Homo sapiens: one gene and its partners. The protein of the gene in region 3 purifies or fractionates together with the protein of the main gene of each other region. This does not show direct contact. Each region holds a gene or a part of one and is shown on either strand. Other genes may lie near its edges. The genes, in order: DHCR24, RHOU and SLC12A2.

The links.
Region 1: the proteins of SLC12A2 (region 3) and DHCR24 purify together in Homo sapiens (affinity purification with mass spectrometry; 2 studies listed by BioGRID and IntAct, with this or other methods). This does not show direct contact.
Region 2: the proteins of SLC12A2 (region 3) and RHOU purify together in Homo sapiens (affinity purification with mass spectrometry; 2 studies listed by BioGRID and IntAct, with this or other methods). This does not show direct contact.

Annotation. Positions count from the first base shown.
Region 1 is NC_000001.11:54,884,196-54,891,858, reverse strand, and holds the start of DHCR24 (delta(24)-sterol reductase precursor), read left to right. Parts: upstream 1-4,663; 5' UTR 4,664-4,739; coding exon 4,740-4,970; intron 4,971-7,663. UniProt on the Homo sapiens protein: Catalyzes the reduction of the delta-24 double bond of sterol intermediates during cholesterol biosynthesis.
Region 2 is NC_000001.11:228,738,472-228,745,625, reverse strand, and holds part of RHOU (rho-related GTP-binding protein RhoU), read right to left. Parts: intron 2,342-7,154; coding exon 1,886-2,341; 3' UTR 1-1,885. UniProt on the Homo sapiens protein: Binds to and activates protein kinase PAK1. Plays a role in the regulation of cell morphology, cytoskeletal organization and focal adhesion assembly during cell migration. Also stimulates quiescent cells to reenter the cell cycle.
Region 3 is NC_000005.10:128,078,880-128,086,919, forward strand, and holds the start of SLC12A2 (solute carrier family 12 member 2), read left to right. Parts: upstream 1-4,886; 5' UTR 4,887-5,075; coding exon 5,076-5,831; intron 5,832-8,040. UniProt on the Homo sapiens protein: Cation-chloride cotransporter which mediates the electroneutral transport of chloride, potassium and/or sodium ions across the membrane. Plays a vital role in the regulation of ionic balance and cell volume.

The DNA of each region.
Region 1 (7,663 bases), on a different chromosome or scaffold from region 3:
GATATCTTCATGTGCTTCCATAATACCCTTATCATAGTACTTATGATGTTGATTTATAATTAATTCTTGATTGCCTAGATCCACACATGATCTGTCAGGAAAAGAATTGTGTCTAATTCACTACTGTGTCCCCAGCATTTTGCACAATTCCCGCACATTTAAAATCATTGAATGAATGTGCTGCAGAAATGGTTAATTTCCATCTGAAATTGGTTCCCCTTATTTTGCTAGATGTTGCTGTATATGATGTAGCACCTGGAACATGGCTGCTCTGCCCTCATCAGGGGAGTTAACCTGAGAAGACAGAGTAGGCAAAAGATAAAAAGAACTGGGTCTTTCAAATTGTCACTGAACCAATGAATTAACCAACTCTTGGTCAATCTGCATTCGGACTTCTTTTTTGTTTTGGACAGGGTCAGTCTATCACCCAGGCTGGAGTACAGTGGTGCTATCCATAGATCACTGCAGCCTCAACCTTCCGGATTCAAACGATTCTCCTGCCTCAGCCTCCCAAGTAGCTGGGATTATAGGTATGCACCACCATGCCAGGCTAATTTTTGGATTTTCAGTAGAGACGGGGTTTCACCATGTTGGCCAGGCTGGTCTCGAACTCCTGACCTCAAGTGACCCACCTCCCCCAGGCCTCCCAAAGTGCTGGGATTACAGGCATGAGCCACCAACCTTGGCCTGTTAGGGCTTTACTTTAAAACAAAGAAAACAAAGGTAATACTATATATATTTTTTTTTTTCTTTTTTCTTTTTTGAGACAGAGTCTTGCTCTGCTGCCCAGGCTGGAGTGCAGTGGCATGATCTCAGCTCATTGCAAGCTCTGCCTCCTGGGTTCACGCCATTCTCCTGTCTCAGCCTCCTGAGTAGCTGGGACTACAGGCACCCGCCACCACACCCAGCTAATTTTTTGTATTTTTAGTAGAGATGGGGTTTCACCACATTAGCCAGGATGGTCTTGATCTCCTGACCTTGTGATCTTCCCGCCTCAGCCTCCCAAAGTGCTGGGATTACAGGCGTGAGCCACCGCACCTGGCCAAACAAAGGTAATATTCTTAAAGAAGTTCCAGGATTAATACTCAGTCCAATCTCCTAAATTTTAGCATGCATAAGAATAACGTAGCTGACTTCTTAAAAAGTAGATTTCTGGCCCCACTTCTGGAGATTTAGCTTCAGTGGGATATGGTAGAGTCTAGGACTCTGCATTTTAGCAAGCATTCTGATGTAGTTGGTCTACAAACCACACTTCAACAAACCCTGTTCTAAAACTTCTACTTCATATCTATGGAACGGAACCACATGAATGGCTCCCAACTTCTGGATCTTTCCATCATTTGAATCTGCTCCCTTGATTATTGTGTGAAGTGTAGTTTGCAGACCAACTGCATTAGAATTCTCTATTCACCAGAATAAGACATTGATCAGGTAAGTCACTTAACCTGAGTCTAAATGTCCCCATTTATTTAAAAAAAAATACATATTAATTCCCTGCATTGCCACTCCTGAGACTGGTTGCAAAGATCAAATGATCTCAGTAGCTGCACTGTACAAATATAAGAAAATGCAATTTGTTAGGACTCTGGTATTTATCATGCTCCTTTACTGAAGAAAAAAAAAACTGTTCTTTACACTCTATTTATTAAGAAAGAAATAGAGGCTCACATTGTAGAAAGATTGCTACGTGGTCAAACTATAAAAGGGGTTTACCTAGTTAACCTGAAAAGTTCTTGCCCAGAACATCCTATTCCTAAGCATTCTGACTGTCTGCATGCTCCATCAACTCTGTAAGTAATGTATAATATGAATAGATTCCCTGACAAAGGAAGCTGCTTTGACTCCAGCAAAAATTAGTAGGTCCAAGGTTATATATCATATGATTCCATTCATATGACCTTCTGGAAAAAAAACAAAACTATAGTGACAGAACAGGGCAATGATTGCCAGGGGCTAGGAGGTAGGGGAGAGTATGACTACAAAGGGGCAGCAGAGGGAGTTTTTTGGGGTGGTGGAACTATTCTGTATCCTCATTGTGGTAGTAGTTACAGGAATCCTCATCATGCTAAAATTCATCAGCTGTACAAAGATTAAGCAGTTTTACTATATGTTAACTTAAAAAATTAATTAATTGATTGGCTCAACTCAAGTGACTGCTTTCCTTACCTGGATAAAAGCAACCCAAAGGATTAGAGTTTGGGGAGACAGAAAAGAAGAATCAGAAATATGAGGAGGGTAGGCAGGAAGAGAGAATGAGAAACGTGCACACTGAATAAACAATTGTTCTGAGTACTTTTTCACTTTTTTGTTGTTGAGACAGCCTGTTGCTAACACTAGTATGCAGTGGCGTGATCATGGCTCACTGCAGCCTTGACCTCCCAGGCTCAAGTGATCGGTCCTCCCACCTCAACCTCCTGAGTAGTTGAGACTACAAGTGCATGCCACAATGCCCAGCTTTTTTTTTTATTCTTTTTTTTTTTTTTTTAGAGACAGGGTCTTGCTATGTTGCCCAGGCTTGTCTTGAATTCTTGGGCTCAAGCAATCTGCCCCTCTTGGCCTCTCAAAGTGCTGAGATTACAGGCATGAACCACCACACCCAGCCTGAGTACTTTTTTATTCCTTTCCTTTTTTGGGAGTTGTTTCCTAAAGATCAGTTGTATCTACTTTCTGGGACTCCATCCTTCTCTTCCCAAGTATAAAACTATTCTGATTAACCAGTAATTTCCACTGTTTCTCCTACACAACACTCTTCAGTTAATTTTTAGGTAAATTTTACTTTCCAGATTACCTCACACCCCCAAAATAATCAGAATGGTTAAGCTTCTAAAGCAAAGCCCTCTTTAACAGAGTCAGACAGAATCGGGGAGAGGCATTTTTCACATTGGCTTTCCTCTTCATACTTCACTGTCCCCCTGTTGGTTGGAGCTTCTAGAGATGTAATACAAGACAAATCTGTAATTTTAAATTTTCTAGTAGCCACCTTAAAAAAGTAAATAAAACAGGTGAAATTAATTCTAATACTATATTTTACTTAATATATCAAAATGTTATTTCAACATGTCATTAACATAAAAATTACTAATGAGCTATTTTGCATTTTTTCTTTGTACTAAGTCTTTGAAATCCAGTGTGTGTTTTACTCTTAAAGGGCATTTCAGTTTGGACTAGCCACATACCAGTAGCTCATAGCTGTTGTGTAAGACAGTACAGGTCCAGGCTATTTATTTTTGAAGTCCAGTGCAAACAACCTCTCATTCTTTGCACTTTGATAACTTGAATATTTGAGCCTACAATCTTCATTCATTCATTGGTCAACAGCCGCTGGAGTGTTTACTGTGCACAAAGCACCGTGCTAGAAGCTGGAAGGACAAAAGTGAACAAGACATTGTTTGCCCTAAGGCTCAGTCTGTGGGGGTGAGAGACACATAAAGAGACAATTATAAAATAACATGAAAGAACGGTGACAGAGATGCACACTATTTAATGAGCATCTGGATGGGCAGGGGAGTGCTCTAAATGTTTCAGAGGTGGCCCTGAGCTGGCTTCGGAATGTGTGAGGTGAACTCTGAGAAGGGGATGGGAAAGGGCATTCAGAGGTACTAGCTTGACCAGAGGCGCGCAAATGAGGAATGCTGAGGCCCAGGGAGCCTCCTGAGTGCATGTCAGGGCAGAGATGAATGGAGAGGGAACTGGATAGGTATGCAAGGCCAGACAGAGAAGAACCTGGTATGTCATGTTTAGCTTCTAAACTAAAACATCTCGAAAACTTCCTAAAATTCCATATGAAATGCAAATGGCGCTGGATTTCAGCTTTTGCTGGTAACCGTGGCAGCTCCCCTACACTGGTTGCTGAGTGAGGGCAGGGCCATCTGCTTTGCTCACCACCCTACCCGAGGCTTGCAACACTGCCTGGCACAGAGCGGGCCTGGGGAGTTTACTCGGGCTGAAATGCCTTCCTTCATTCTTTCTCCTCCGGGCCTCCCATCTGCCTCAGTGAACTGGAAAAAGAGGAAGAGTGCCAGCCATAGCCTTCCATGCTTCCAATGGCCTCTGGAGTTCACGAACAGGTCTTCACCTTTCTGGGCTGCTTCCAAGTGTACACAATGGAGCTCACCACTCCCCACTGCCCAGGACTGCTGTGTAGCTCAAATGAATTCGTGGAAAGTGCCCCCTAAAAATGAAAAGATGCCTCTGGAGACCTTGCGCACACCGAGTGGCACGACCTGCAGAGGTTACCGCCAGGTTTCCATCCTCCGCGCCCGGGAACCGCCTGTCCGGCCAAAGGGTGACTGACTCAGGGCCGGGGCGCCTCCCAGCCCTCCGGCGGAAAGCCACTGCAAAACCGCTTAAGGCGCGTTTGGAAGAGGCGGCCCCGCAGCCCCGAGGGCCTGGGGCCCTGAGTCCCAACTGCCCACCCCCAGTATTCGCAGCGGACCCCACCGGCACCCAGTCCCTGGCACCCCCGCCTCGCGCGGCGGCGGGGAGAAAAGGGTGGAGCGGTCCGACTCCCGCAGCCAATGAAAGCTGCGGGTTCCTGGTCCGATCCCCGGCGCGGCTCGCCATTGGTCGCCGCCCGGGTCTCGGCCCACCGAACCTCGGCGACCCGAGCCAATCGCGAGGCGGCGGGCGATCCCGGGCTCCCCGGGCTGTGGGCTACAGGCGCAGAGCGGGCCAGGCGCGGAGCTGGCGGCAGTGACAGGAGGCGCGAACCCGCAGCGCTTACCGCGCGGCGCCGCACCATGGAGCCCGCCGTGTCGCTGGCCGTGTGCGCGCTGCTCTTCCTGCTGTGGGTGCGCCTGAAGGGGCTGGAGTTCGTGCTCATCCACCAGCGCTGGGTGTTCGTGTGCCTCTTCCTCCTGCCGCTCTCGCTTATCTTCGATATCTACTACTACGTGCGCGCCTGGGTGGTGTTCAAGCTCAGCAGCGCTCCGCGCCTGCACGAGCAGCGCGTGCGGGACATCCAGAAGCAGGTGAGCGGCGCCGGGTGCGGCCGGGACTCAGGGCCGGAGGCGGCGTGCGCGGGGATAGCGGGACGCGAGGTGGCGACGGGAGCTGCGGTGCGGGGGCGGCCAGGACTTCCTGGGGGGGTGGGGAGCTGGCGTTGGAGAGGGGTTGGAACGAAACAAAAATGTGATGGGGGCGGGGGAACAGAACAGGCAAAGTGCCCACTGTGTGCAGGGCATATGCGGGTACCTGGAGGGAGATGAAGAAGGGGAAGAGGGGGAGGTGCGAAGCACTCAGGTAACTCTCACCCGGCCCAAGCATTTCAGAGAAGGAAAGGCTTCCGGGAGGTGGAGCTGGGTCTAGAGATTGGGAAGTATGGGAAATGATTGGGGGAAGGTGTGTGGGTGGAGGGACTGGTGTGAGCAAATGCTGGGAAGCCGACAAGTGCAGGGCAGGGGCGGGAGAACGTCGGAAAAGTCCGTTTGGTGCTAGGCTGGAGAGGGGCCTTGATGCCAAGGCCGAGTTTGGACTTTATTTTGTACAGCAAGACGCTTTTGATTGGGTTTAGGATAGAAGACTAAAGCAAGAAGGTAGAACCCAGCCCAGAAGCGGGAGGGAAGAACCTCACAGCCTCTGCTGACGGAGGGCTCACTCCTTGACAAAGGCAGTCGGTCCATCTCTCAGTTCCTCAGGCACCCACGGAGCCTGTGACCTGCTGTGGCTCACAGTGGAGCCTCCTCTGCATCCAGGGACTTGGGCAGTTTCTTGACTCCCTCTGCTTCTCTTTATGTTCCTCTCTTGTTGGCATCAGGTTGCAGAGAGCTTCTGTTTCCTGCTGCCACCCTTCCGTAGGTGTAGCAGCCTCCATATTCTGCTTGCTCCGCGCTGGGTGCTTCAGGCAAGAGCATGAAGATGGATGCGGAGAGACGTTCCCATGAGGCATAAGACCTGGGGCCTGGTGGGAGAACGCAGTGTCTGGAAGTGCTTTGCCCTGTAGCTCTGGATTTTGCTGGTCACAGTCATGGCTCCAGAGCCTCTGCGTGTCCTCCCTCCCCACCTGCACCCTGTTTCCTAGCTCTTTTCTCGAGTTCAAATTCTCCATTTACCTGCTTGTCTCCCCTGTCAGACTGTGAGCTCCTAGAATGCAGGGACTGTTATGTGACTCGCCTGTGGCCCATAGGGCCTGGCTCAAAACAGCCTAGCGAGTGCCTATTAATCTTGGCTAAGCCACAAGATTCACTGTGAGCAGGAAAACAGGGGCCCAGCTGGACTAGCCTCTACCCCAGACCTGCCATGTGCCATTGCCATCCTCACAGCAACCCTGGTAGATCTTGTGCCTATCTTACAAACAGGGAAAATTGAGTTTCAGAGTGTGAGTCATGTGCTCAGGAAGACTAGTCAGTAAATGGGGCTAGAACCTAGGTTAGCTCGATTTCAGAGCCTGAACTCTGACATTTCTTCTTTCCCAGGCTTTCCCTTCCCCCCTATAGGTCTGGTTCAGTTGCCTCACACCTGGCTTGTAATAGCTGTCTGACCTAGTTGCCCTTTTTTCTGGGCTCTCTGTTTGGCCTCCAGCTTCAGTGCAGCACCCCTAATCACTCCCTCCCATCTCTGGGCTTGTGTCAAACTCCGTGGCTGCAGATTCAGGCAGGGACGAGACCTGGTTGGTCGTGGAATCCTACCTATCATCCCTTTTCCCCCAAATCACAGGAATCTCTTCCTTAATACCTGCCCTGGCCTCTGATCAAAGAAAAGTCCTTCCCCGTGTTGAGCTGTTTGCCTAGCCAGCTCCAGTGCAGCCTTCTCCAGGAGACCTGACCAGTATTTGACCAGACTTTTGGTTGCAAGTGAAAGAAGCTCAATTCAAACTGACTTGAGCAAAAAGGGATTTTATTGGCTCAGGTCCTGAAAAGTCTGGGAGTACAACTGGATCAGGCATGGCTGGATCCAGGATCCTCTGTCCCCCATCTCCATCTGTCCATCCCTCTGCCATCTGTTGGCCCTGCTTTTCTAGGTTGACTTCATTCTCTGGAGCCTCTCTCCCTGCAGAGGCCCCAACAGTTTCTGGCTCATATCCAACCGGCTTAGCGACCCCAGTAAAGAGAGAGTGGCTGTCCTGGAACTGGTCTCATTGGCTTGACTTAATGAGATGTCATTAATCTGTCTCTGGCCAGAAGTATAGAATCAGTCCTCAGTCATGTACCCACCTCCTGGGGTAGGGGAGTAGAATCAGTCTCACTTGGACCAAAGGAAGATGGGGATTGTTAGAAGTGGATGAAGAGGAAATGGATGGTCACAGGTCAAAATGACAAATATCCACCCCCCCTGCACTTGTCTATCTCAGCAGAAAAGAAACACTTCCTCCTGCATTTCTGATGGGCTTGTCATCCATGGGCCATTTGTTCTGTGTTTTGTGCTCTGGTCACTTACCTTAGAGGTTTTGTAAAACCTCTTCCTTCCATTGGCTTGGTGGTCCTTCCCTGCTCCTCCTCTTCCCCTCAAAGTGATGCATGAGTTAACATATACAAATGTTTAAACAGGCCTTGGCATGTGATAAGCCTCCATACGTGTTAGCTATTACCCTGTGAACTGTTACCACAACTCCATCTATCTTTCCTGTCCTGAAGTCAAACAGTCCTGGCTATGAATCTCAGCTCTGCCATTTACCAATTGTGTGACTTTGGACAAGTTATTTTGCTTTTGAGTTTCCTTATCCTCG
Region 2 (7,154 bases), on a different chromosome or scaffold from region 3:
TCAGGAAACTATGACCGACATCAATTCCAATGTGTTGAATAATCAATCAGTCTATGTATTTTAGTGGTTTAAAGATTAATCTTTTGTTAAACAAAGAAATTTGTTAATTTTATTTACTAACAGGAATAAATAGAACCCCTAACCTAAAGTATAACCTGATCTTTTACTTTTTCTATAGAAAAACACAAACTGGATTTCTTTTTAACATAAAAAAGACAACACAAAACCCACAGAAAAATAAAATTCTTCTATCTAACTGGCTTTACAGATTTCCCTCATTAGTTGTGGATGTGACTTTGGTGGCTCTGGGTCACCCACCGCAAGCCCGACCCTGCAACTGAGTGTTCAGGCTGCCTTGTGGTGTCTCGGAAGCATTCCTACCAGAGTAAAAGCTATTCTCCTGAGATGGCACCTTTTTCTCCAGAAGATTCAGCCCTAACAGCTGCCACCTTGAAGGATGTATTTCACTGTCACAGGAAGCAGCCAAGTATGGGGGCCATGGTCCCGGCATGCACCTGGCTGGCTACACGCCCCGCCCCTCAGGAGTCCTCAGAGTCCACTGGCCTCTGCTGCTACTGCCCTGAAAGCCATCTGTGGCTTTAACTGGTTGTTTTAACAGGTTTCAAGAGATGTTCATTTTATTTTTTGTTTAGATTTAAGATGTCCTAAAAAATGTATATATTAAGATACACTTAAAAACATACTCTGAATATAATAAAAAAGATGTTGGTTCAAAAAAGGGTCAACAAGAAGAGGAAGCCAAGCTTCCTAGCATCTGTTTTTGTGGCCACGCTTTTCCCCATTAATGGTGTGAAAGTCTGAATCAACAGCAAATACAGCCATACAGACCTATGTATCTGTGTGCATGAGTGTGCATGGGTGTGCACACAGAGAAGTACATCTTGGCCGACTTAAGAAAAAATTATCTGTGTTGTGTCCCACAAACACTTGCTGTTGGCCTTTCAAGAGTATTCACCTCCCTGCCGAAGAGACAGCTTGAGTATGGAGGTTTAAAAACAATCCAGACAGGTGCTCCCTGTTGCCCTCGTTACCTAGGATTGAGGCAGTTTGGTGCACGTATTACAGTACCGAAAGCAAATGTCACTTTCTGATCTCCACAGGAACCACTCCCTAAAACATGAAACTACTGACCAACACTTGCTTTCCTCCGCATAGCACTTTGTCTGTGTTCATATGTGTCAACACAACTGGACTAAGAAAGAAAAGTCCCAATAAGGAAGTTTCCTTTTTTGACTACAGAGTGCCATACAGTCAGTGGGATGTTTTCTGTTGGTTGTTTTTAAATCATAAGTAACTGGGTATTAGCAATTGACAAAAGTGACTGGTTTGAGGTTTTGTAGGCAGAGGTCTCTCACTTTTTTTCTCAGATTTTTGCTCCTTAAAAAAAAGGCATGGTTTGCATGGAGTTTCAAAGCTAAGAACTATTGTTACCATGGTTGACCTGTGTACATAATGCACTGTGCATTAAGTAGCCCTTAATCAAGAGAGGGTTAACCATAGTGTTCCTCCCTTTTGCTCTTCTGTACATTATAATGTAGCAGAACTTCATTCTTAACATCCAGATTAGAGGTGTCTTCTTCATATTAGATATAAATTAACCAGAGGTCTAGAACTCTAAATTTCCAGAGATGTGAAAAATGTTTAATTTACTTCAAAAATATCTTGCATAAGTATCTCATCCCTAAGCTCAAACAAACAAGAAAATTAAAGGCAGAAAGAATACATAAAATTGAGAGCTCCTCCTATAATACATATACACACACTCTCGATATAGGTTCTACGCAGTAAAAGGAGTTGTTTCAGCTAATATAGCTTCTAATATCGATTTCATCTGAAAATAGCCTTTCTGGGTGTCTTGCCAGCATCATACGAAACAGCAGTACTTCTTCCACCAGGACTTGGAGAGGTTTTTCATTTTATCTGGAGTCCTGCTTTTAGACTTCTTTGGCTGTTGCTGAGTGTCCGAGTATTGAATGCCAGCGACGATGGCTGCATCAAAGACCTCTTTGAGGTTTTTTTGAGTCAAGGCTGAACACTCGATGTAGGAGGCGGCTTTGATTTCCTCGGCGCACAGCTTAGCCGCCTCTTCAGGCACTGGCTTTTCTTTGCATTTGTCCAACTCAATGAGGACTTTGACATCTTCTCTGAGATCCGACTGCGTTCCAACTAGGATGATGGGGGCTTTGGGACAGTGGCATCGAATCTCCGGCACCCATTTCTCACTGACGTTCTGGAAGGATGAGGGGCTCACGACACTGAAGCAGAGCAGGAAGATGTCTGTGTTGGTGTAGCAGAGAGGCCTCAGCTTGTCAAATTCATCCTGCAACCAAGCAAAGTACCCAAAAGTTATGTTTTCATGAATTCTCATCAGTAAAAAGATCACCTTCACATTTTTCATGAAAGGGTCTGGCAGGTGATAGAAGACCCGCTGGTTCTAGAAGGAAGAGCCAGCATCCTTGAAACGATCCTACTGTTTACCCAAGCGGGGCCAGTGCACCAGCGAAGGTGTGGCAGCCATCTGCTTTCAGGGCCAGCTATGGTCTGAACACTGCCAAACATGTTCAACGTGTTCATCGACACTCAAGACCTACTTACAGCTTAACATAGAAAAAGTGCTCAAAGTAGGTGGGTTCTAGAAATAAAATGGACTTAAGCCTTCAGCTGAGTGTAACCCAAACCTACTCTCAACTCTTGGTACTTAGCTACTCTTCTAAAATTCAGACCACACCCATATTGATCCTCAAGACTCCCACTCAAACCCAGTCTACGAACACAGCTCCTCTCTTTATCAATCCAGCCCTGCCTTTCCCAACAGCTCTGAGTGATGCCAATTTCATCCCATCTGCACTGTGCACACGCTCTGCCCACACTATGCACAGCAACGCAGAGTAATGCTAATCAGACTCAAGGCCAGACCAGAAATGGAGTTGAGGACCTTTGTCAGTCCATTGTCATCGTGACTCAGAAAACTTTTGCAGCTCAGTGCCACTTACAGACACTAGTTAATACATCCTCATTCTGGCTGTATCTTCTCTTCCTCCCTCCTTCCTTCATTTTCTCCTACTTCCTTTATCCTTGCCAGTACCCATGGCCTCCATGTACAGTGCTTTGGACAGATAAGAACTGGAGAATAGGCACGCCCACCCTACCCTTAAAGTATAGAGAAGTGGATAGAATAAGTTAGAGTTGATTACAAATAAACCAACGGTTGTGCTGCCAATGCTCTCCCGTGGTCATCCATTTAACAGACACACTGAACATCACCTACACTCAAGGCACAGTGGCAGGCGAGGGGATTTGGCTGTGAACAGACAGATGTTGTTCTCCAAATTACCATTTCTTTACAGAAAACATCCTATAGTTCCCTGTAGCACCATATTCAGCTAACTGACAACTTTTGCTCAACTCTTTTGTAGAAAAATATTTACTCTTTCCTATGTAAAATGTATATCTGTTGGTGCCAACCATCCTCAGGTATAAATAATTTCCCAATGACAAGAAAAAGTTCAACGCCATTCATGTTTTTCATTACTCAATTGACACACTCCGATTATTTACCAAGTACCATTTACATCACATTATACTCCATCCGTGGCTTTTTTCTCTTGGTATAAAAGAAACCTGTAACTTATTTGAATGTACTTTCTTCATTTGAGGCCCCATGTTTCAATTACGGGACGACAGCCAACCAACTAATCACATTAAAGTCAACCAGCTAAAATGCTCAGCAATCAATGTGGTATTTCAGAATGTCACTTGTGAGGCTTCTGTAAGCGAAAGTTGAAAAAGTATGACTTAGCCAAATGTGGTGGCACGTGCCTATAGTCACAGTTACTTGGGAAGCTGAGGCAGGGGGATCACTTGAGCCCTGGAGTTTGAGACCAGCCTGGGTGACATACCAAGACCCTGCTCTCTAAAAAAAATTTTTAAAAAGAAAAATAATGACTTAAGTTTCTTCATGCCAACTTTGTGATGAATAAATAAACACAGAAACACAGCCAGGTAGACTATGGCTCAGTCATGAAGATCTTTTAATGGAATGCTCCCTCTGTTCTTAGAGGGCCTCAAAGAAAGAAGCATAAAACTGAGACCAGTATTAAGGCAGCCCCCTCAGGTAGCTGCACCCCTGGCCATGCCCTGGTATCTGGGGTTGCATTACTGAGAAAAATAAAGGCAAGCACAAGGGCTGGGACTTCTGAGGGGGCTTTGGAAAGCTATCTCCCCAGATCTCTTGAGATTCTGGCTAAGGGGCTTGAGAAATAAAACAGAAATTAGACCCTCCTGCTCAGTGCCTGACCTGAAATCTTAGAAATAATGCAATACACACGTGCAATGAGGACAACTGGAATGCACCCTTAAGAAAAGGCGTTCTGAGGCCAAGCAATTTGCATGTGCTTGCCAGGTCTGTGGTACGGACACTGCACAGAAGTCTGATCAGGGTTGGCGGGGCAGAGAGACGAGACTGGATTCTACATCCCTCTGGTCTAGCTGCAACTTGATTTTTTTTTTTCAGTATAAGATTTTTCCAAGTACTTTATGGGTCAAAAGGCTGAAGAATTTTCAGCTTCTATTGGCAACTCTCCAGTGAACTACTCCTATTTCCGCAATACTTTTTTCTCTTATGCCAAAGGTATGTTTTTTCAAGCCTCCAGTCTGTCTCTGATCAATCTGCCCTTGAGTGATGTAAGACCAGTGTTAAAAACTCCTTTTGACATCTTATAGACTCGCCTACCCTCCCTAACAAGAAAAGCCAAAGTACAAGAAGTGATTTCTTCAGCATGTAGAGCCATCCATACTCTGCTCCCATCAACTTCTGTGGGAAACCCACACTCCAGCTCCACATCCCCAAGTTCTAGCCTATCTGTGCTCACGTTGATTCTCCAGGCATCTGAAGTGGAGGTCAGTGGAGTCACTTAACCCTCAAGGCTCTTATGTCAACTGCCTAGAAGAGGTATGTGTTCCTTCCTCCATAAGGAAACTTGGCAGGTATCACAGCAAGTCCCTTAAAATGTATTTTATCAGATCAGGACTAGGGAGAGTAGAAAAGAACTGCCACTTTGACCAGCTTGGCTAGTAGTCTAAACAAAGACTAATTTATAAATGGGGGATCAGGAAAACAAAAACAGAACAACTGACTTATCTTACCAGCAGCTTATTTTTCATAGTTTTTGAAGATGGTTCTTCTTCAAAAGTTTTGAAGTTGGTTCTAAAAGTCTACAAATTTTTAGATAGTGGTCTTATTCATTATTTAATTGGGTATACTCTTCTAACCAGTACACAAAGGTTAAGAAATACAGTAAATCTCATTGAAAATATTGCTAAGAGGCCAGAAGAATAATTTTCAAATAAACTGAAACTTACAAATGTAGCACCAAAACCTTCGTTTTTCCCTAATTATAAACTTTTTTGTGCAAAAATACTACTAAAGTGATGCTTGTGCTTCCCTGATTTTTAAACAGGAACAATTTAACTCTTCCTTGATGATTCAGTCATTTATGCAAAGTTCTTCTGGTAAAATTCCTATTTGTCTTTCAAAACTCTGCTCAGAGGTTTTCCTGCCAGGCCCAACCAGCCTGCACCTCTAAGCCCGAACCTCTTTTCTTCCCTTTGCTTGCTCCTTCACGAGCTTCCATTTGTCTTCCCTCCACACTGTAAGTCTATTAAGGGGCAGGCCCACAACTTATGTTTATACCCCCACCACCTGGTCCTTCTCTGGTTCATCCATTCTAAAACCACGAGATTAAGCCCTGCTATGTGCCAGGCACTATGCTGGGCACTGGGCATGAAACCCCAGCTCAAGAAGCTGCATCCTGCTTGAAGAGCCAACACTTACGGGGAGCCCAGTGGACAGTGATATTTGAGTGACATCCTGGGGCAGGTAGGTGCACTGAGCTTCTGCTCCAGCCCGTAAGGCTCCCTGCTAACTGTGCCTTTGGACTTCCTGTATTTTCCTGACTTCCATCTTATCCTCAGGGTCTGACTTCAGCAGGTCCGATGGCTATGTTTACTGACATGTTCCTCTGCCTGTGTTTTATTTTTTTTGAGATGGAATCTCTCTCTGTCAACCAGGCTGCAGGGCAGTGACGCGATCTCAGCCCACTGCAACCTCCGCCTCCCAGGTTCAAGCAACTGTCTGCCTCAGGCTCCTGAGTAGCTGCTATTACAGGCGCCCGGCACCACACCCAGCTAATTTTTGTATTTTTAGTAGAGACGGGGTTTCACCATCTTGGCCAGGCTGGTCTTGAACTCCTGACCTCATGATCCACCCGTCTCAGCCTCCCAAAGTGCTGGGATTACAGGCGTGAGCAACCGCGCCTGGCTGGCCATGTTTTAAAACTCAGAAAACCTGACCCCCTGGTAGACAAAGCATCCTCACTTCATACAAGGAAATGAAGCTTGAATTATAAATATCACCATTGCATTCAGAAAGATTCAGTGCTAGAAGTGACTGTATTCTTTGATTTTTCTTTTTTTTTACCCCCAAGAGATGGGATCTTGCTCTGTCGCCCAGGCTGGAGTGCAGTGGCACCATCATAGCTCACTACAGCCTCAAACTCCTGGGTTCAAGCGATCCTCTCACCTCAGCCTCCTGAGTGGCTGGTGGCTGGGACTACAGACAGTGCCACCACACCAGGCTAATTTTTTTATTTTGTAGAGATGATGTCTTGCTATGCTACCCAGGCTGGTCTCAAATTCCTGGCCTCATGCAATCCTCCCACCTCAGCCTCCCAAAGAGCATGAGCCACCACACCCAGCCTGATTTTTGTTTTCTACAGACAATACAATACGGACAGTGCTTGGTTTTTCCAAGCTGAAGTGCTCCCAAGCTATGGCCTGCACCAGCCCGGTGTTCCTTGGAGATCAAGGCTCCACGGTCTTATGTCATCTTCAGGTTTAAAAAATAAGATCTGTCCTTAGCTCTGAATCTGCTGTCCCAGAGTAGGTGAGCAACTTGGAAGCTCTGGCGTAGATGAGGCTCTGGGGGGCAGTGGAAAGCCAGTGCCTTCATAAACACAGATAGTCATGTGATGGCACCTCAGAAAGTGAAGGGGGCACTTTCACCTGCCTACAAAGTACCCCCGGAACTTTGCTGAACTCTAGAACATACTAGAGAGACAAGTTCATTAACTATC
Region 3 (8,040 bases):
GTTGTAGGTCTAACATAATTTATATCTTCTTTTAGGATACTTTGGCATTTGTGAATTGAGAAGTTTGGAAAACAACTACGCAAGTCACTTCTAATCCTAAAATTCCAACTACATGAAATAAATATTAGTAAGTACTCAGACACACACAATGTCAAAGGCTGGCCTTGTGGCAAAAAGGAAATACAGCAAAATCAGTCAGGTTCCCACCACGGCACTGATAGCAAGTCTGTTCTCAAGGTTAGTCTCTAAACTGACACCTGGTAAGTCTGACAATGAAATATTTGCCAACAATTAAGTAAAGGAGATCTCTCCTGATAAATTTTTCATAAGTTTCACATAATACACTTTGATATTTCCTGGAATGTTTGTGGCCCTCCCCTCACTGCATTGCTCTCTCATTTTGTTGGCTAATACATGTTACTAAAGTCAATATATATTCAACTCATTTTTCTCTGCCTCTTGGCCCAATTTAACACAGCTGATCCTGTTTTCAAATGCCTTCATCTGATTTTCTTCTCACCTCCTGACCTTTGTAGGTCTTTTATGTGCTCATTAATGTTGGAATTACTTATTTTTTCCTTAACCAAGTTTTTCATCTGTAAAATGGATGTAATCTTATGATTTTCTTCATAGTGTTGCGAGAATTCAGTAAGATTATGAATGTATAGATTTTGGCACAGTATCCAGGACCTAAATTCTCTATAAAGGCTAACTACTATTACTACTATCAACTCACAGCTAGATTAGTGAAATTGTGTCCTGACTTTCCATGCTTATTCTTCCTCTTCTCCACTCTTCTGCTCATAATATAACTAGTTTTATTTTTATTTATTTATTTTTTGAGACAGTGTCTCACTCTGTCGCCCAGGCTGGGTGCTGTGGCACAATCATAGCTCACTACAACCCCCACCTCAAGTGATCCTCCCACCTCAGCCTCCCAGGGAGCTGGGAATACAGGTGCGTGCCACCACGCCCCACTAATTTTTGAATTTTTGTGGGTTTTTTTGGTAGAGATGGGGTTTCATTATTGTTGTCCAGGCTGGTCTCGAATTCCTGAGCTCAAGCCATATACCCGCCTTGGCCTCCCAAGTGCTGGGATTACAGGTGTGAGCCACCTTGCCAGGCCTAGAGAGTTTTAATAAGCACAAATCTGATTATGTGCCCCTCAATCTATCCAGAAACCCATTAATGCTTTTATAGGGCTTTTAGAATACAGACACATCTCTTACTACTTTTGCCCCCAATCCTTCCCTATGCTTTAACCAAACTGATTTCAAGCTTCTTGCTTCTTTGATAGTCCCTGCTCACTCCATGAGGGCATTTGTCCACAATATTTCCCTTGTTGGAAACCCTCTAGTGACAATTTGGTCCTAATTTTCCTTTAGACCTTTGCTAAAAAGTCACTTCTGTCTTGACTAAGTCTGGCCTATTTTGCATTTTCCTTATACTACGTTCCTATCCCCTAGAACTTCTGTTTGCAGTTACAAATTTATATGAGTGACTACTATTTATTATTAATACACATTTGTGTGTTTCTTCCAACAGACATCTCAGACTAAGCTCCTGATATTCATCCAACCCAAACCTGTTCCTTTAACCTCCTTTGCCATCTCAGAAAATAGCAATACTATTCTTCCAGTTGCTGAGGTCAAAACCCTTGGACTCTCACACTTCACATCCATCAGCAAATTCTATTGTTTCCCCAGAATTCAACTACTTTTCCCCATTTCCACTGATACCCACTGTGGTCAAAGCGCTATCATCACTTCCTGGATTGCTGTAATACCTCTTAACACATCTCCTTGCTTCTTTGACCCAACCATTTATCCCTTGCCTACCTACAAGACAGCTAGATGAATCCTTTAAAAATGGCAGATGTCATTCCTCCACTGAAACCTTCCAATAACCTGCCATCTGCCAAGGACTGTTGTGTACCCTGCTAAATTAATATGTTGAAGCCCGAATCCTCTCCTCACTCCTATGTGACTGTATTGGAGACAGTCCTTTTAAGGAGATAATTAAGGTTAAATGAGGTGATCAGGGTAAAGCCCTGATTCCACAGAACTGGTGCCCTTATAAGAAAAGAGACAACGCTCTCTTTATCATCTGAGGAGACATTGAGAAGGTACTGTCTGCAAGCCAAAAAGAAAACCCGAACATGATCATGCTGGCATTCTGATCTCAGACTTCCAGCAGGCAGAACTGTGAGAAAATATATTTCTACTGTTTGAGCCACCCAATCTATGTATTTTGTTATGGCAGCCTGAGCTGACTAACACACTATTCTACTAAAAAAGTCAAGTATGTCTAACAGCCAAAAAAGGTCCTAAACATTCTGATCTACTACATCCCATATCCTAAGCTCTCTGATGTAATTGCCTTTGATTCTTCACATCTCTTAAGCAAGTTCCAGCCAAACTGGCTTACATGCAATTCCGTGAGCATGCTAAGCATGCTCCTGCCTTTGGGTCTTTGGTTTCCCTCTGCTTCAGACACTTTTTTTCCCAAGAACTCATATCACTCACTTCCTTACTCAAATATCACCTTCTCAGTGAGGCCATCCTATGGAAAATTTTATGATCCTCATTTCACACAAATATCCCATTTCCCTTTCCTTAGTACTCACTGCTTGGATGCTATGTATTTTACCTATTTATCTTGTCTATTGTTTCTCTTTCTCACTAGAAAGAACTCCATGAGAGATGGGATTGTCCGTTTTGCTCACTGCTATATCCCGTAAATACAGAGTAGCTCATAGTACCTGTTCAGTATTTATTCAACTAAATGAATGTTGAATTCCAATAGTGGCAGAATTCGTTGTGGAGCTGAAAGGTACTGCACGGATCAACTACTAATGCAGCAATTCCCTAGTAGAAAACTGCACTGCTTAAAGGACCACCTCATTTTTCTGGCCTCCTCTGGTTATTACTAAAGCTCAAAAGGAGCTTTAAAAATCCTGATGCAACAGCTGTTTTCCCCTCTCACCGTCTTTAAAAATAGAGATAATAAAATAGCCTGAAAAGTTGTCAAGTTCAAGTAAGATCATGTTTATGACAATTTTTTGAAAATTGCCTGGTTGCAGCTTTTACTTACAGCATTTTCAAACAGTTCTGCCAACTCTGTGGCTCTTTCATCATGTTTCAAGTGTTCAGCAAACGATGGTGTTCGTCTCCATAAAGTCAAAGTTTAAAAATACAAGGGCCGGGCGCGGTGGCTCATGCCTGTAATCCCAGCACTTGGAGAGGCGGAGGTGGGCGGATCACGAGGTCAGGAGATCGAGACCATCCTGGCTAACACGGTGAAACCCCGACTCTACTAAAAATACAAAAAATTAGCAGGGCGTGATGGCGGGCGCCTGTAGTCCCAACTACTCAGGAGGCTGAGGCAGGAGGAGAATGGCGTGAACCCAGGAGGCGGAGTTTGCAGTGAGCCAAGATCGCACCCCTGCACTACAGCTTGGGCGACAGAGCGAGACTCCGTCTCAAAAAAAAAAAAAAAAAGTACATAAATAAAAACCAAGTAATTGGAGGACGCCATTCATTGATTTTACTTAGGACTTTGGGCATAATCTATAGGTTTAAAAATTTCTGCTGCTAAGAAAGTGGGAACACAGTTATATTCCCTTACATTTTACCGAAGAGAAACTAGACCTGCAGAGGAGTACCTTTCTGTTTCTATATAAGCAGAGGAATTCTGCACAACCCAAATCACGCAGAAACCTCCTGGTAAGGACTCCACGGGTAGTTATTGCCGGCATTGTATTCTGAGAGATGAGCTGCATATCACTTTTGGAAATGCCTTAAATTAAAACTCGTCTTGAAACAACATGACGTCTCAAAGAAGCTCCCTTCTCACCTTGGAACATCAGCTTTTAAAATAAAGGTGTCATCAGAAGTGTGTAGACACCCACTGCATCACAACTGGAACTGATCTCTGGTTATGCCAATCTAGGTCTGCCTGGCAGGGTGAGTCTACCGCTCGAAAGCTGCACAGAGGAAATCCTCCCTCCTCCAGGTTCAGGCCCGGAGTTACGAGCGGAGATTCGCGGCGGCGGGTCAGAGCCCAGAGCAAACCAGGCTGGGGAACGCACCTCGCCCGCGGCTCCGGAAGCGGCTGCGGCCCCGACCGGAAAGCCCCCAGCATCGCCCGAAGGAATCGCGGCTGGCCTGCGGCTCCGGCCCGGCCTCGGGTACCACGCGCCTAGTGGGAAGCCGCACTGACGCCTGCAGCATCTCGCGAGATTTCGGGCTCAGCCCAAGTACTGCGAGTTCACCAAAGCGGGGGGAAAAAAAAAAAGCCAGCGTGCGAGAGCCTCTGAAGCCGTGGCTGGGGCGCTGGGGTGGCAGCTGCCGCGGGAGCATCAGCTACCGGCGTGAGGCGAGGCAGGGCACGCGCGCCGTCCGCAGCCCCGTTGCCTGGGCTGCAGGTCCACTGACGCGCGGCCCCTGGGTGGAGAGAGGGGAGGTGGCCTGGGAGCCCGCTCCTTTTCGCCGCAGAGCGCGGCGGGGGAGGGAGGTGAAGGCGTGGGAGGAAGGCGGCGGAAGAGGAGGTAGCCGCGCGGAGATCCTCCCGGCGACATCACTGAGGCGGAGCGTAGCCGCGCCTGCTCCCCGATCGCGCCGTTCGTGCTGCCCGCACTGCCCGAGGCCCTTTGCGGACTGGCTGGCCGCGCTCTTCGCACGGGGCGCTTTTGCGTGGGGTCGCGCAGGAGCCGCGGAGGGCCGGATCGCTGAGGGAGCGTCAGCCGCGCGCCGCTGCGGGACCGCGGGTGGGCGGGCTGAGGGGCGGAGGAGCCTCCGGCCCCGCCTCCCGCGTGCTGCTGCCGGAGCCGCCGCCGCCGCAGCCCCGCCGAGGCTTTAAACAGCGGGGCCCGCCCCGCGCCCGCCACACTCGCGCGCTCGCTCGGCTGCCGGTGGCCTCTGTGGCCGTCCAGGCTAGCGGCGGCCCGCAGGCGGCGGGGAGAAAGACTCTCTCACCTGGTCTTGCGGCTGTGGCCACCGCCGGCCAGGGGTGTGGAGGGCGTGCTGCCGGAGACGTCCGCCGGGCTCTGCAGTTCCGCCGGGGGTCGGGCAGCTATGGAGCCGCGGCCCACGGCGCCCTCCTCCGGCGCCCCGGGACTGGCCGGGGTCGGGGAGACGCCGTCAGCCGCTGCGCTGGCCGCAGCCAGGGTGGAACTGCCCGGCACGGCTGTGCCCTCGGTGCCGGAGGATGCTGCGCCCGCGAGCCGGGACGGCGGCGGGGTCCGCGATGAGGGCCCCGCGGCGGCCGGGGACGGGCTGGGCAGACCCTTGGGGCCCACCCCGAGCCAGAGCCGTTTCCAGGTGGACCTGGTTTCCGAGAACGCCGGGCGGGCCGCTGCTGCGGCGGCGGCGGCGGCGGCGGCAGCGGCGGCGGCTGGTGCTGGGGCGGGGGCCAAGCAGACCCCCGCGGACGGGGAAGCCAGCGGCGAGAGCGAGCCGGCTAAAGGCAGCGAGGAAGCCAAGGGCCGCTTCCGCGTGAACTTCGTGGACCCAGCTGCCTCCTCGTCGGCTGAAGACAGCCTGTCAGATGCTGCCGGGGTCGGAGTCGACGGGCCCAACGTGAGCTTCCAGAACGGCGGGGACACGGTGCTGAGCGAGGGCAGCAGCCTGCACTCCGGCGGCGGCGGCGGCAGTGGGCACCACCAGCACTACTATTATGATACCCACACCAACACCTACTACCTGCGCACCTTCGGCCACAACACCATGGACGCTGTGCCCAGGATCGATCACTACCGGCACACAGCCGCGCAGCTGGGCGAGAAGCTGCTCCGGCCTAGCCTGGCGGAGCTCCACGACGAGCTGGAAAAGGTGAGCTCGCCCAGCCCTCCCTTCTTCCCCAGCCCCTGGTGCATGCCGACCGCGGGATGTGGCTGCAGACTCTTCCCGAGTTGAGGTGGCGGGAGTAGTAGACGTGCACGACTTGCTGGCATCTCTGGATTCAGCTGTCAAGGGTGGAATTGCCGAGGAATGTTAACTTAATCTCTCAAAAGTTTGTAGCGGGTTTGGCTAGTTACGTGATACCGGAGGGCTGCCTCTAACAACCTTCCCCATCCAGTTAGGTATCTCGTGTGCACTTTCTTTCCCACCCACGCTCAACAGTCACCATCCCTCTGAATGACAGTAGTGTTTGTGGGCCCTTTAGAGGAGAATGTGCAGTGAGGATCTCTCGAGAGAGGTTGGAGAGCACCTACCATCTGTGTCGTTTTGAAAGATTGTGTTGTGTGGCTTATGTACGCCTATTAGGGATCGCAAGAGTGGGAATGTTGCTGTTTGAAGGAAAACCTTAACAGGGTGTGTTTATGGTCTATGAGTTATTAAAGCTCAATTCTTGCAATCTTGAATATACAAAGGATCATAGAGATCTTGTCTTGGGACACGCTGTTCCTAATAATGGCATAACTCTTTTTTTTTGCGATGAAAACGTTTTGGGAGAGGTGTATATTTAAAAAAAAAGGGACAGAGGCGAGTCTTTAAAGAAAAAAGGGAAACAGGAGAATTGGTTTTTCTGTAGAGGATGACCAGAAAGACCTGTGGGGTCTTTGCCATAAGCAGTTACACTTTGTAAACAGAAAACCATCCCCATAAACTCATTGATTTTTGTAACTATTTTTTATGGTCACATAAGACTTATTTCTTCAGCGTTCAATGTCACTGTTTTGAGATAACATTGATGCTTTTGAGATTTCGTTAATGTTTAACTTTTTTATGAGCCGGGATTACTTGAAGTCTTCCTTTACAAGTGTGTAATGACTACATTGATGGAATTTGTGAACGCAAGAGGATGGTACCACATAGGTTGAAATGATCACAGTTTGGACAAGTTTAAATCCAGTATGTGATTTCTTTTGGATATGATTATTTGATCTCATACAGTGATTTCATACAAGATTGTACTTGTCCCAGTGTTTGATAATGTAACATTCACACAGAGGTAATTACAGAGCTCTTACAGCTTATTGATTGTTTAAAAGCCTGAGATCATTTAGCTTTAGATAATACTATTCTTGTTATTCCATTGTGGTATTTTGTCATAATCAGAAGCAAAACAATGTCTAAAACATTTTTTATTCATACTCCTGTAGTTTCTATCAAGTCTATTCTTTTTTCTTTTCAAAACTCAAAAATCATTGTAGACAAAAGTAGATATGGAGCTGGCAATTTTCATTATCTTAGGACAGTTTTACTAATGAAAATATTATACAGATATATTTTAGATTTATTTTACCAAAGCCAAGTATGTGAGCAGTAAAGTGATCTGTATTTACCCATAAGTTTTAGAAAGACATCCAATTGAAAGGTATATATGTTGAGCTTATATGCTTCCTAGGGAAGTTTTTGCTACTTTAAATTAAATTATCTCAATAACAAAGCACTTCAAGTTCTCCAAAACTTTAGATTTGTGTGTTTGTGTTTTTTGCTTGGCTTTTTGGTTCAAAGTATCTAAAAAACAACACCTGTACTGTTAGTTGTATGGTAGTTGAAGAAATCACCCAACCTCTTAGCTTCAGCTTTTCAGGGTTATCATGAAGATTAGAAAAAAAGCGCAATAAAAATGACCATGTTCAGTGCCTGGAAAATAATACCTAGTTGTTATTTCCCTCTTATATTGGCCCTTCAGAAGACTCTAGGATCTCAATTTTAGATTCTGTTAATTCTTACGTTATTAGGTGAATGTAGTATATAAATATTATGTTCAGTTTCATTTATGCAACAGGTACTTTAATTCTTTGTAGTTTACCTTCTGCCACTCATAATCTTTATGGCCACTGTTTTATTGGCTTAACTAATAACTACATGTTGAAGATAATTTTGCTTAGAATTTTAGCAGATGGATTAAAGAAATGGGTGTTAAGTAGTACAAATATGACTATACATCACTGTCGAAAGAGGGGCAGACAGGAGGGGTTATAACAGGTTGGCTGGATCCCCAGAAGTTGTCCCTTACTCTGTCTAAATTGACTTCTACCTCTCTAACACCTTCTGTAATGTTTCTAGCCTTCAGTGAATTATAATATTT